3 separate regions of the Homo sapiens genome follow, and regions 1 and 3 are each linked to region 2. The links come from fine-mapping of genetic effects on gene expression. A gene starts in region 2. Each other region holds a variant in brackets. All regions are shown on one strand. Distances are from middle to middle.

Region 1 (4,241 bases), 350 kb before region 2:
TAACTGCTCAATGTTGCCTTCTGGATATCCCAGAGGTATCTCAAATTCAACATTTCTAGAATTAAACACTTTCGTCCCTTAAAATTTTTTATTATCTAAAACAATGCCAATGTCCAAGCCACAAATCTGGACATTATTATCTTAAAATCCTCCCCCTCTCTCACATCCCACATCCATTTAGTCACCAAGTTCTATCAATTATACTTCCTTAATGTCTCTCTAATCTGTCCCCTCTGCTCACTACCACTGACTTGGTTGAGTCTCATCATGTCTCTCTATGATTATAATAGTCTCCTAATTGTTCCTTCTGTCTCCAGCCACTCCTGTCTTTAATCTGTCTACCCAAGTGCAGGTAGAGTGATCTTTCTCAACTCTAATCTAATTGTGTTACTCCACTGCTTAAAATGTTTCAATGACTCTTCACTGTCTTCGGGACAAAGGCCAAATTCCTTAGTTAGCACACAAAGTACTCAATAATCTGGCCACATCCTGAAATCTCCAGCCCCATCTTCCCCATCTTCCACTATTCCCCTACATTCACCCTCCACTATAGCCATGCTGAATTATTAAAGTTCTTTAGTCTCTTAGTTATTTAGTTCTTTGGTTATTTTATGGAACTTAATTTCTCTGGTGTCTCATTCCTGTATGTATCCAGAGTGATCTATACACAGAACACTTTCACTCTTACCCTTTATGGAAGAGACTGCTAATTGCTTACTGGTACCCACCTTCCCCTTCTTACTTTTACTAATGGAAGTCACTGAATGGTAGCTGGGCACCCATGCCTACCTTTCTTAGTCTCCCTTGCAGCTAGGTAAGGACATGTGATTAAGTTTTAGATAACAGAATACAAGTAGAAATAATGCATGAAAGCCTCTGGGTCATGCTTTTATGAAGAAGCTGTCTGTATTACATTCTGTCTTTTTTTCCCTTTCTCTCTGGCTAGTAAATGGGGACAAATGGAATAGCTATCTAGGATCAAGAAACTGAAGCCAAGTGGTGAGGATGGCAGAAGTATGTCATTGATCTTGGACTATTCACTGCTAGACTTTTATGTGAGAGAAAAATGAACTCCTCTCCATCATATTTAAGCCAAATAATTTGCAGTCCTCTGTTATAGGAGGACTTTTCTTACAGAAGGTTAATCAATTAATCTACTCCTCTGATTTTCAGGACTCACATCATGCATTACCCACTGTATGAAGACTTCTCTGATTCCCAATAGAGAGGTAAGTTCCCTTTCCATGGGCTCCCACAGCATCCAATGCACATCTTCACCACAGTCTTTATTACACTGCATCCTGAGTGTTAGTTGGTTCCAGATACCCCCAAGTCCCATAACTTTTCTGACAGCAGAGATTTTTTTTCGTGATTCCTCTCTAGAGACTAGGGCTGAGTAGGGCACGAGGCAAGATAAAGCAGCTCAATGACAGTTTTTAAAATGAATGGATGAATTTTGGCTACCAGGCCCTTTAGAGCATATTAAATAATAGAACTTTTTTTTTCATTTATTCCTTCACCAACTATAATTGGGAAGAGAGAGTACAAAATAGAGGTGAGAGAGTACAAAGTAGAGGTCAAAGAGTCAGGACAGAGTCAGAGTCAGTTGTGTTGGAGCTTTGCTATGTAACCAGGGGCAAGAAACTTAAACTATATGAATCTCAAACTTGAAGCTCAGTTTGCATTTTGAAAATGTCAGCTGCAAAATGAGAATAGTGATACCATCTACCTCATAGGGTTGTTGTGATGGTTGAATGAGGTAACATACAGACATACCTAGGAGATAGTGTGGATTTGGTTCCAGACCACCAGAATAAAATATGTATCACAATAAACTGAGCCACACAATTTTTTCTGGTTTCATGGTGCTTATACTATACTGTAGTCTAGTAAGTGTGCAATAGCATGATTCCTAAAAATAAGGTATACATCCCTTCATTAAAAATAATTTATTGCTAAAAAATGCTGACAATCACCAGAGCCTTTGGCAAATCATACCCTTTTTTGCTGGTGGAGGGTCTTGCTTCTATGTTGATGACTGCTGATTGATCAGGATGGTGCTTACTGAAGGCTGGAGTGGCTATGGCAATTTCTTAAAAGAAGACAACAATGAAGTTAGCTGCATCAATTGACTCTTCCTTTCACAAAAAAAAATTTCTCTGTAGCATGCCATGCTGTTTGATAGCATTTTACCCTCAGAACTTCTTTCAAAATTGGAGTCACTCCTCTCAAACCCGGCCACTGCTTTAGTAAACCAAGTTTATGCAATATTCTAAATCCTTGGTTATCATTTCCACAATGTTCACAGCATCTTCACCAGGAGTAGATTCCACCTCAAGAAACCATTTTCTTTGCTCATCCATAAAAAGTAACTTCTCATCCATTGAACTTTTATCCT[C/G]ATATGGCAGCAATTCAGTCACGTCTTCAGGCTCCACTTCTAATTCTAGTTCTCTTGCTATTTCTACCACATCTACAGTTACTTCCTCCACTGAAGGGTTAAGCTCCTCAAAGTCAGCCATGAAGGTTGTAATTAACTTTTTCAAACCTCTGTTATTTTGTTGATATTTTGACCTCCTCTCATAAATTATTAATATTCTTAATGACATCTAGATTGGTGAATGCTTTCCAGAAGGTTTTAAATTTACTTTGCCCAGATTCATCAGAGGAATCACTATCTATGGGATCTAAATCCTGATGAAATCTACTTCTTAAATAATAAGACTGGAAAGTTACTTTATTCCTTGATCCATGGGCTGCAGAATGGATGTTGTATTAGTAGGCATGGAAACAACATTCATTAATCTCCTTGCACATCTCCATCAGAGCTGCTGGGTGATTACTACATTGTTAATGGGCAGTGATATTTTGAAAGAGAGCTTTTCTTTTGAGCAGTAGGTCTCAAGAGTGGGCTTAAAATATTCAGTAAAACATTCTGTAGACAGATGTGTTGTCACTTAGGCTTTGTTGTTCCACATATGGAGCATGGGCAGAGTAGATTTTGCATAATTCTTAAGGGCCCTAGGATTTACAGAATGGTCAATGAGCCTTGGCTTCACCAGCTGCATTAGTCCTTAATGAAAAGAGTCAGCCTGTCCTGTGAAACTTTGAACCCAGGCATTGACTTCTTTGCAGCTATGAAAGTCCTACATGGCATCTTCTTCCAACAGAAGGCTATTTCATGTACACTGAAAATGTGTTTTTTAGTGTTGCCACCTTCATCAATGATCTTAGCTGCATTTTCTGGATAACTTGGTACAGCTTTTACATCAGCACTTGTCGCTTCACCTTGCACTTTTATGTCATGGAACTGGTTTATTTCCTTAAACATCATGAACCAACCTCTGCTAGTTTCTTTTTTTTTTTTTTTTTTTTTTTTTTTTTGAGACGGAGTCTCGCTCTGTCGCCCAGGCCGGACTGCGGACTGCAGTGGCGCAATCTCGGCTCACTGCAAGCTCCGCTTCCCGGGTTCACGCCATTCTCCTGCCTCAGCCTCCCGAGTAGCTGGGACTACAGGCGCCCGCCACTGCGCCCGGCTAATTTTTTGTATTTTTAGTAGAGACGGGGTTTCACCTTGTTAGCCAGGATGGTCTCGATCTCCTGACCTCATGATCCACCCGCCTCGGCCTCCCAAAGTGCTGGGATTACAGGCGTGAGCCACCGCGCCCGGCCTCAACCTCTGCTAGTTTCAAACTTTTCTTTTGCAGCTTCCTTACTTCCTCAGCCTTCACAGATTGAAGAGTTACAACCTTCCTGTGGATTAGGCTTTGGCTTAAGGGAATGTTGTGGCTGGTTTGATTTTCTATCCAGACCACTAAAAGTTTCTCCCTATGAGCAATAAGGCTATTTTGGTTTCTTATCATTTGTGTGTTCACTGGAGTAGCACTTTTAATTTTCTTCAAGAATTTTTCCTTTGTATTTACAACTTGGCTAACTGTTTGGCACAAGAGGCCTAGCTTTCAGCCTATCTCAGCTTTCAACATGCCTTCCTAACTAAGCTTAATCATTTCTAGCTTTTGAGTTAACATGAGAGACATGCAACTCCTTCTTTCACTTGCATACTTAGAGGCCTTTGTCGGGTTTTTAATTGGCCTAATTCCAATATTGTTGTGTCTCAGGGAATAGGGAAGCATGAGAGGGAGAGGGATGAGGAATGGCTGATCGGCGGAGCAGTCAGAACATACAACATTTACTTATTAAGTTTGCTATCTTGTCTGGGTGTAGTTCATGGAGCCGCAAAACAA
Region 2 (4,241 bases):
GGTTGACTGCATCCGCCTAAGAAGGTTGCCACACTGGTCCTAGACCCTGTATTTGGTGATAAATTCACTCAAAACAAAGTTATAACCATATAGGACATACTTGCCAATGACTCTGAGTTTATTTTTCACAATCATCTTTCAGCCAAGAGAAAAAATTAATTATCACTCCACCCAATCATTACCCTCCATTCTTCTGTGTATATGCTTTGGCATAAAGGGTTGGCTTGCCTGCACTCTCGTTGGGGATGTTTATTATTCTTTCTTTTACTCCAAGCCTCCTACCAACAAGCAGAAAAAAAACCTCCACACACAATGGGGGAAGGAGAGAGCTTCCCACAGCTGAGTCAGCTGTGAGCACTGGAAAAGCGAAGCTAGGTGAAGTTCCTTCAGCCCAGCAGCCCCCAACCCTATCCCTATTTTACTCCCTGGGGGCTGGGCCCCTTGTGGCAGGGACTAAGTAGTCAGCTCTTTGTTCCACACTCAAGCAGAATTCAGTGGCAGGTGAAGCCATCCAATAATCCTGAACTTAGACTGACCTTGACCTAAACCATAGCTCAGTGTGATAAAGAAAATAATTCACTGGGGCAAAGGTGCTTTCCTTAAAAAATAACTTGCCATGGCGAATTTTTTACTGCCCCCCACACTTATCTGTAGCAACCAGAGACCAGGACAAAATTATTATTCAAGCTGCTGACCTTAATCCCCAATTGTTTAGGAGGTGCTGGGGCAGTTCCTTGGTCAGCTTGGATGTCACTTTGCCCCAGACAGGGGTGCTGAATATGTCTAACAGTACAGCAGATTGTCCCTTAAGAACAATCATCTGCCAAGTAAGGGTAATTGCTGAGCAAGAGGGTCCCTGGCACAGCTACGGATCACGTCTTATAAGGTCAAAACCACTAAAGGAAAAGGCCCAAAGTTCTGGTTGTATCCACCACTTTCCACTTCTACTATCTCCACTCCCCAAGTGTGGGAAACCCATTTGCCTCAGAGATCTGGGCTGGGAGTCACCCTGCAATCTCCCTTCCCCTGGTGGTGTGGAAAGGCTTAAAGGCCAGACACACCAGCTCAGAGAAACAGCTCATCGAAGCCTTGCACTTACTTCTCATAGCGCTGATAAGCGCGTTGCCGTCTTTGATTACGTCTTTGATGAATTTGTTGGTCCTCTCCAGTTCCTGCTCATAACACTTGAGCCTCTCGCGGAAATCGGGGCTGTCCAGGTAGCAGTCGCTGAACTCCAGCGGGGGATGACCCATGGTTCTGATGGCCGGGAGTAGGGGGAAAGGGGAAAGACACAAAGACCGAGAGCATCAATGGCACAGTAGAGGAAGTAGAGGGGACGGACTGAGCGCGCGACCCGCTTAAGGAAGCTCATAGCCTCCGTCCCTTTGGAGGACAGGTACCTGTTTCAGTGAGACTCCTGAGGAGCGCTGGCTGGTCCGGACAGAGAACAGGCGCCCCGGCGATGGCTTCAGGGCCAGGGAGAGCTAACTATCGCAGTCGGATCCCGGCAGGGTGCTGCCTAGCAAGCAGCATGTCCCTTAGGCATCGCCTTCCCAGATAAGCAGCAAAAACCGCAGCCCGACTTGCCTCCGGAGACGGGCCGGATCCTTCCTGAGCAATTGCAAACGTGACACTTGGGCCCGCCCAAGGTGTAGGCGAGGTTAGAGCTGGAGCTGGGAACAGCCTCTCTACAGGCTCCTCGCTCCGGAGCGAGCGGAAGACTTCCTTGGCCGAACTCCGCGGGCAACCCGGATTGCACTGTCCCCTCCCCTTTCTTAAAGCCAACGCCTGCGCCCCGCCCCAGCGAAGCCCGAGGACCAAACCGGAGCGCTCTGGCTCCTTCCTCAACTGTTTTCCTTGTACCTTAGAGTTTCCTGACCAGGGCCCGCTGGCTGCTAAGACTTCTTCCTGGTGCAAGGGAGCCGGCCGGCCGGCCGTCCTTTTAGGCGCCGGAAGGGTTAAGCCAGGGCGGCAATGAAACGTAGCCTCGCTCCATAGACACTGCAGCGGGAAGAGGAGGGCGAGAGCGCGACGCACAATAGCCGCGGTAGCCCAGCGCTTCCCTACGGAAACTGGGGAGCAGTCAGCGCCCTAGGACTCCAGCTGGAAAGCGTGGCGGCCTGGGAGATGTAGTCTTTCCGTTTGCACTCCCCAAGACTCCTCCCTGCAGTCTCCCCACCACCCCGCCTGGGAGGCTGCTCTCCCAGAACGGCATTCCCAGCCTGCCGCAGGCTCCTGCGCAGGGACCGGCCCCAAGGGGCAGGTGCGCGGCGCTGGACTCTGCGGGGGAAGTTTCCGAAACTAGAGCAAGAACCCGCAAGACTAGATTGCAGGAAGCCATCTCTCAATTCCCATGATTCGGCTGGGTTGTGTATTCTTTTGCCTTCCCCTCTTTCCAGCCTCCTTCGGACCTACCAACTTCTTTTCCTCTTTCTTTTCCCATGTCTCCTGCTCTAAGTGCTCTAATTCCCTTGGGCCTTCGACCTGAAGGGTTGATTCCTACTCTAGGGTCTCCGTGAAGCTCAGTGCCCCCTGCCAAAGAAAGGGAGGCCATAATTCAGAGTTAATATTTTCCTGAATAGGACCTCAGAGCATGGCTTTTGTGGCAGACGCCGATAATGCATATGATTTTCCATGTGTAAGTGGAAAGTCTAAGAATAGGATGTTATAAATTGTCTTGCAGCTTACCTTAAAGGCAGCTGTCTTGAGACTAAGGGTAGGTAGAGGCTCGAAAAACTAAAAAATAGTTTGTGCGTGGGCAAAGAGATCCCTTTAATTCTGCAGAAGTGTTTACATTAGATTGCCCTGTGAAGAAAGCCAGAACGGAAGGGGGTTGTAAATAGAATAATAGTGGCTGACCCACCTGAATTAGGGTCCTGTTGCTGCTGTGACAAATTACCACAAACTTGATGTCCTAAATCAGCATAAAGTTATAATCTACAGTTCCAGAAGGCAGAAATCAGAAATGGGCCTCACTGGGATCAAATCAAGATGTTAGAAGGGTTGTGTTCATTTTCAGATAGTCTAGGGGTAGAATCTGGTTCCTTACCTTTTCCGGCTCAAGCTGCTCACATCCTTTGGCTCATAGCTCCCTTCCTCCGTCTTTAAAGCTAGCACTGGCCAGTCAAGTCTTTCTCATGCTACATCACTGTGATTCTCATGCCTCCCCTTAAGGACCCTTATGATTACACTGGGTCCACAGGATAATCTCCCCCATCACATCATCCTTAATCACATCTGCAAATTTCATTTTGCCACATAAGATAACGTAGCCACAGGTTTCAGGACATGGACATCTGTGAAGGAGGAAACATTATTCTACCCACCACACAACCTATCGCCCATCTCACTAATCTTCAAAACAACCCTATGAGGATGGTTTTATTATTATACCCATTTAAAGATGGAGAAGCTGGGTCAAAGAGAGTTTAAGTGACTTGCCGAAGGACAAACAGCTAGTTAAATGGCAGCACTTGAACTTGAGCCCAGCCTGGCTGGCTCTAGAGGTAGTGCTCTTGACCACTACACTATATAGCAGAATGGCAATGAGAAAACGCCCTCTGAAAATAAATAAGTAGCCACATCTCAGGGGAAAGTTTTGTTTCTTACTCTTTTTATCTTTAAGGTTAATTTATGGGAAAATGTCCAAAATGAGCTTTAAATGCACCATGGGTTGAAAAATGCAGGTACTAAGGGAAGGTACCCATTCAATGGGTATATGGTCTTTCACACTAGTAAGTTTCCTTTTAGCATTCATTCACTCGTTTAACAAGCATTTTTTGAACACCTGCTATATACTTTTATTTATAAAGCCTATACATATATTTTCATCACTATAAAAATTGCCATTGACATTTTTTAAAATTTTATTTATTTATGTATTTTTTTGTTTGAGAAAGGGTCTCACCCTGTTGCCCAGGCTAAAGTGCAATCAATAGCTCAATCACGGCTCCCTGCAGCCTCGACCTCCCTGGGCTCAGGTGATCCTCCCACCTCAGCCTCCTCCTGAGTAGCTAGGACTACAGGCACATGCCACCACACCTGGCCAATTTTTGTATTTTTTTGTAGAGACGGGGTTTCACCATGTTGGCTAGGCTAGTCTCAAACTCCTGGGCTAGAGGGATCCACCCACTGCAGCCCCCACCAAAGTGCTGGGATTACAGGTGTGAGCCACCATGCCCAGCTGCTGTTGACATTATTGATGTTAGATTCAATCATACTCATCTGAGTTCCTATACTCA
Region 3 (4,241 bases), 35 kb before region 2:
CCAGCACAGTTCACCCAGATTTCTTTAATCTTCTCACAGCCTGTAATGGAAGTTCTATTTAGATAAAATCATAGCAGCTGTTAACAACTTTTTCCTTTGGTTGTTTTTTCCATTTTTCTTTCTAACTTCTAATTGGCTATAAACCAGGGACCACAGTGGCTGGCTAAAGGATTCCCAGAGTTACAAAACAGGCCTTCTCAGTGCCCCAGGCTTCTTATCGGAGAACATCATTAACTTTTTCAATTGCAACTCTGCAAGTTTCCCAGGTAGCTGAATCCATTTCCATACTGCAGCCTTATCACATCCTGAATCCTGACAGCCTGTTTCTGTTTGTCTTTTATGTTCTTTTTTTTTTTTTTTTTGGTCTGTTATGTTAGGTTGACACTTTTTTCTTTTATTTATTTATTTATTTTTTTTTTTTTTTTGAAACAGAGTCTCACTCTGTTGCCCCAGTTGGAGTGCAGTGGCACAATCTCGGCTCACTGCAACCTCCACCTCCCAGGTTCAAGTGATTCTCCTGCCTCAGCCTCCGAAGTAGCTGGGATTACAGGCACCCACCACCACGCCCAGCTAATTTTTGTATTTTTAGTAGGGACAGGGTTTCACCACGTTGGCCAGGTTGATCTCGAACCCCTGACCGCAAGTGATCCACCCACCTCGGCCTCCCAAAGTGCTGGGATTATAGGCATGAGCCACTGTGCCTGGCCACAGGTTAACCCTTTCTTAATTCCCTGGGCTTTTTTCCCTTATTGCCACAGTCTTCCTTTTATCACTGGCAGGTGTAACCCTGTTCTTCCTTACTTTTCTTTTTCTCAGATTAGGCTCCTCCCATCGTCCCTTAACAAAAGGATGATTTAATGATCTTGCTTGGGGTGTGGGGACTGCCAGGAGAGACTGAGAGCCAGCCCTGGGGCCAGCTGGTTCCTGATCAGAGCATCTGTAGAAAACCTGCCAGAGTGGGGGCACAAAATGCTGCAAAGAAACAGAAGCTGTCTTTGATCTTATATTGTCCCTTGCCTTTTATTTTTCTCCACCTCCATTTATTAGCTCACTATTTGCTAGTATTTTGGGGAGACACTTTAATACTTGCTCATGACTACATGTGCACTTTTCTCAATTTATGCCCTATCCAATGGTAGAAAGGCCCACCTAAATGATCCCCTTATTCCACAGTGCCCCAATGCTTGCATGTTTTGGTTTTTCATCTGCTGCTCCATTAATTGTTTTCAGCTGCAACTATAATAGCCCAGTGGAATAGTTTCCAAAGATTTCAATCCAACATATTTTTCACTTGAAATTTTTAAACCCACGAAATGTTCTCCAACCCCTTCTATGTATTCCACTGCTGTGGTGATGATGCATTTAATGGTGGAAAAGAAACCACACAGAAACACAGGGCTATCAGGTTTATAAAGAAGTCACTTGCTCTGGTCCGCCTGTCTTGAATTAGGATCACATTTACACAATATCAGACAGCTAAGGCCCTAACTTAAAGGCAATGTGCTACCTTAGACTGGGAATCAGGGAGGGTCCTAAATATATACAAAATCTGGCCAGGCCCAGTGACTCACGCCTGTAATCCCAGCACTTTGGGAGGCCGTGGTGGGCGGATCACCTGAGGTCAGGAGTTCGAGACCAGCCTGGCCAATATGACGAAACCCTGTCTCTACTAAAACTACAAAAATTAGCCAGGCGTAGTGGTGGGCGCCTGTAATCCAAGCTACTCAGGAGGCTGAGGCACGGGAATCACTTGAACCCAGGAGGCAGAGTTTGCAGTGAGCTGAGATTGTGCCACTGCACTCCAGCCTAGGTGACAGTGCAAGACTCTGTCTCAAAACAAAAAAAGTGTGTGTGTGTGTGTGTGTGTGTGTGTGTGTGTGTATAGTAATAATATGCCAAACCTTCTCCACAAAACTGGTCCTCTCCAGAATTAACCATTTCAAAGAATGGCCCCACCATCTATTTACAAACCAGTGAGCCATCTTTGATATCTCCATCTCCCCAACCTTCCATATCCAATTTATCACCAAGTCCGATTTATGTAAACTCCTAAATATCCCATTAATACAGTTCTCTCCATCTCCACCCTCATCCAAGCCATCAACTTCTTCCACCTATACCACTGCAACTACCACCTAACCGGTCTCCCTTCACCCATTCTTGCCTGTCTTGAATTCATTCTCCACTGTGCAGCCAGAGTAAGCTCAAAATATAAAGCACATCACTTGAATCTTCCTATTTAAAACCATCTGAGGGGCTGGACAGTAGCTCATGCCTGTAATCCCAGCACTTTGGGAGGCTGAGGTGGGCGGATCACTTGAGGTCAGGAGTTCAAGACCAGCCTGGCCAACATGGCGAAACCCCGTCTCTACTAAAATTACAAAATAAATAAATAAATAAAAATTAGCTGGGCGTGGTGGCACATGCCTGTAATCGCAGCTACTCAGGAGGCTGAGACAGGAGAAATGCTTGAACCCAGGAGGTAGAGGTTGCAGTGAGCCGAGATCGTGCCACTGCACCCCAGCCTGGGC[G/A]ACAAAGCAAGACTCTGTCTCAAAATAAATAAATAAAAATAAATAAATAAATAAATAAATAAAACCCTCTGAGGGGTTCACGCTATATCTCCCTAGCATGACCTATAGGCCCTGAGTGATTGGGCAACTACTCCATACCTTCCAACTACATTGGTCTTGTTTTAGTTTCTTTTTTTTTCTTTCTTTTTTTTTTTTTAAGACAGAGTTTCGCTCTCATTGCCTAGGCTGGAGCACAATGGCACTATCTTGGCTCAATGCAACCTCTGCCTCCCGGGTCCAAGCAATTCTCCCGCCTCAGCCTTCTGAGTAGCTGGGATTACAGGCTCTGATTGGTTGCTTTCTGTAACCAATAGGATGTTTGCAGAGGAGTGTGAGCTTTGTAACTTCACTTCAGCCTCTGGTCGACTGCTTTCTGCAACCAATCAGACTGACTCTGGGCTACCACTTCATTTACATGAGGTGAGCATGAAATGGCCAATGGGAAACTTCTAGGGGGTATTTGAATCCAAGAAGATTCTGTATCTGGGCCCTTGAGCCACTGCTTGGGTCTGCTTCCACACTGTGGAGTATATTTTTGTTTTCAATAAATCCCTGTTTCGTTCTTTTGTTGCTTCATTCTTTCTTTGCTTTGCAGGGCGTTTTGTCCAATTCTTTGTCCAAAACGCCAAGAACCTGGACAACTTGCAGTCACAACCCTCTACCGGTGATATTATGAGCCAGGTACTGTGCTAATCAGCATGAGATATTGTATTAGTCTGTTCTCACACTGCTATAAAAAAAATGCCTGAGACTGAGTAATGTATAAAGAAAACAGGTTTAATTGGCTCACAGTTCTGCAGGCTGTACAGGAAGCATAGTGGCTTCTGCTTCTAAGGAGGCCTCAGGAAACTTACAATCATGGGGAAAAGCGAAGGGGAAGCAGGCACGTCTTTCTTCTCTCTTTTTTTTCTTTTTTCTTTTTTCTTTTTTTTTTGAGATGGAGTCTCGCTCTGTTGCCCAGGCTGGAGTGCTGTGGCATGATCTCGGCTCACTGCAACCTCCGACTCCTGGGCTCAAGCAATTCTCCTGCCTCAGTCCCCTGAGTGGCTGGGATTACAGGCGTGCACCACCATGCCTGGCTGATTTTTCTATTTTTAGTAAAGACAGGGTTTCGCCATGTTGGCCAGGCTGGTCTCGAACTCCCAACCTCAGATGATTCACCCGCCTCTGCCTCCTAAAGTGCTGGTATTACAAGTGTGAGCCACTGCACCTGGCCAGGCATGTCTTTTGTTGTTGTTATTTTTTCTTTCAGGCACATCCTACATGGCCAGAGCAGGGGCAAGAAGAGGTGGGGAAGTGCCACACACTTTTAAAAAATCAGCTCTCACAAGAGCTCACTATCATGACGACAGCACCAAGGAGGATGGTGTTAAACCACAAGAAACTGCCACCATGATCCTTTCACTTCCCACCAGGCACCACCTTCAACATTGGGGATTACAATTCAACATGGGATTTGGGTGAGGACACAAATCCAAACCATATTAGATATACAGTAATAAATCAGAACCAATCCCTCTCCAAAGAAGGAAGGGAGATATTCACAATACAGCTAACTTAGTAATGAGACAGACAGCTACAAGTACAGTGTAAACAACATGTAAGTGAACATCAAGGAACAAAGGGTTAATTCTAACTGAGAAGATATCCTCAAAGGTGGTGGCATTTGGC

Alleles and levels. Alleles are on the strand shown, and positions count from the first base shown. SD is a standard deviation of normalised expression in the study named. Not every link is listed here.
With allele C in place of G in region 1, the expression in tibial artery of the gene that starts at base 1,728 in region 2 is lower (small effect, 0.20 SD a copy in GTEx).

What was found. PIP is the estimated chance that this variant, and not a neighbour inherited with it, causes the effect.
Region 1: its variant is the best candidate, but not a certain one, in a credible set for the expression of OPHN1 in tibial artery (GTEx, PIP 0.62).
Region 3: its variant is the best candidate, but not a certain one, in a credible set for the expression of OPHN1 in T cells (TOPMed, PIP 0.68).

Annotation. Positions count from the first base shown.
Region 1 is chrX:68,079,703-68,083,943 of GRCh38, forward strand. The region is part of intron 19 of OPHN1 (oligophrenin 1); the gene reads right to left. Among named protein-coding and RNA genes, the nearest start is that of NXTAR, 300 kb to the left of the region's middle. The variant C/G (reference allele first, on the strand shown) is at 2,399.
Region 2 is chrX:68,431,768-68,436,008 of GRCh38, forward strand. It overlaps OPHN1 (oligophrenin 1), which reads right to left and starts at 1,728. Exons shown (of 25, transcript NM_002547.3): 1 at 1,401-1,728; 2 at 1,100-1,257. The coding sequence starts at 1,253.
Region 3 is chrX:68,397,116-68,401,356 of GRCh38, forward strand. The region is part of intron 2 of OPHN1 (oligophrenin 1); the gene reads right to left. Among named protein-coding and RNA genes, the nearest start is that of OPHN1, 34 kb to the right of the region's middle. The variant G/A (reference allele first, on the strand shown) is at 2,532.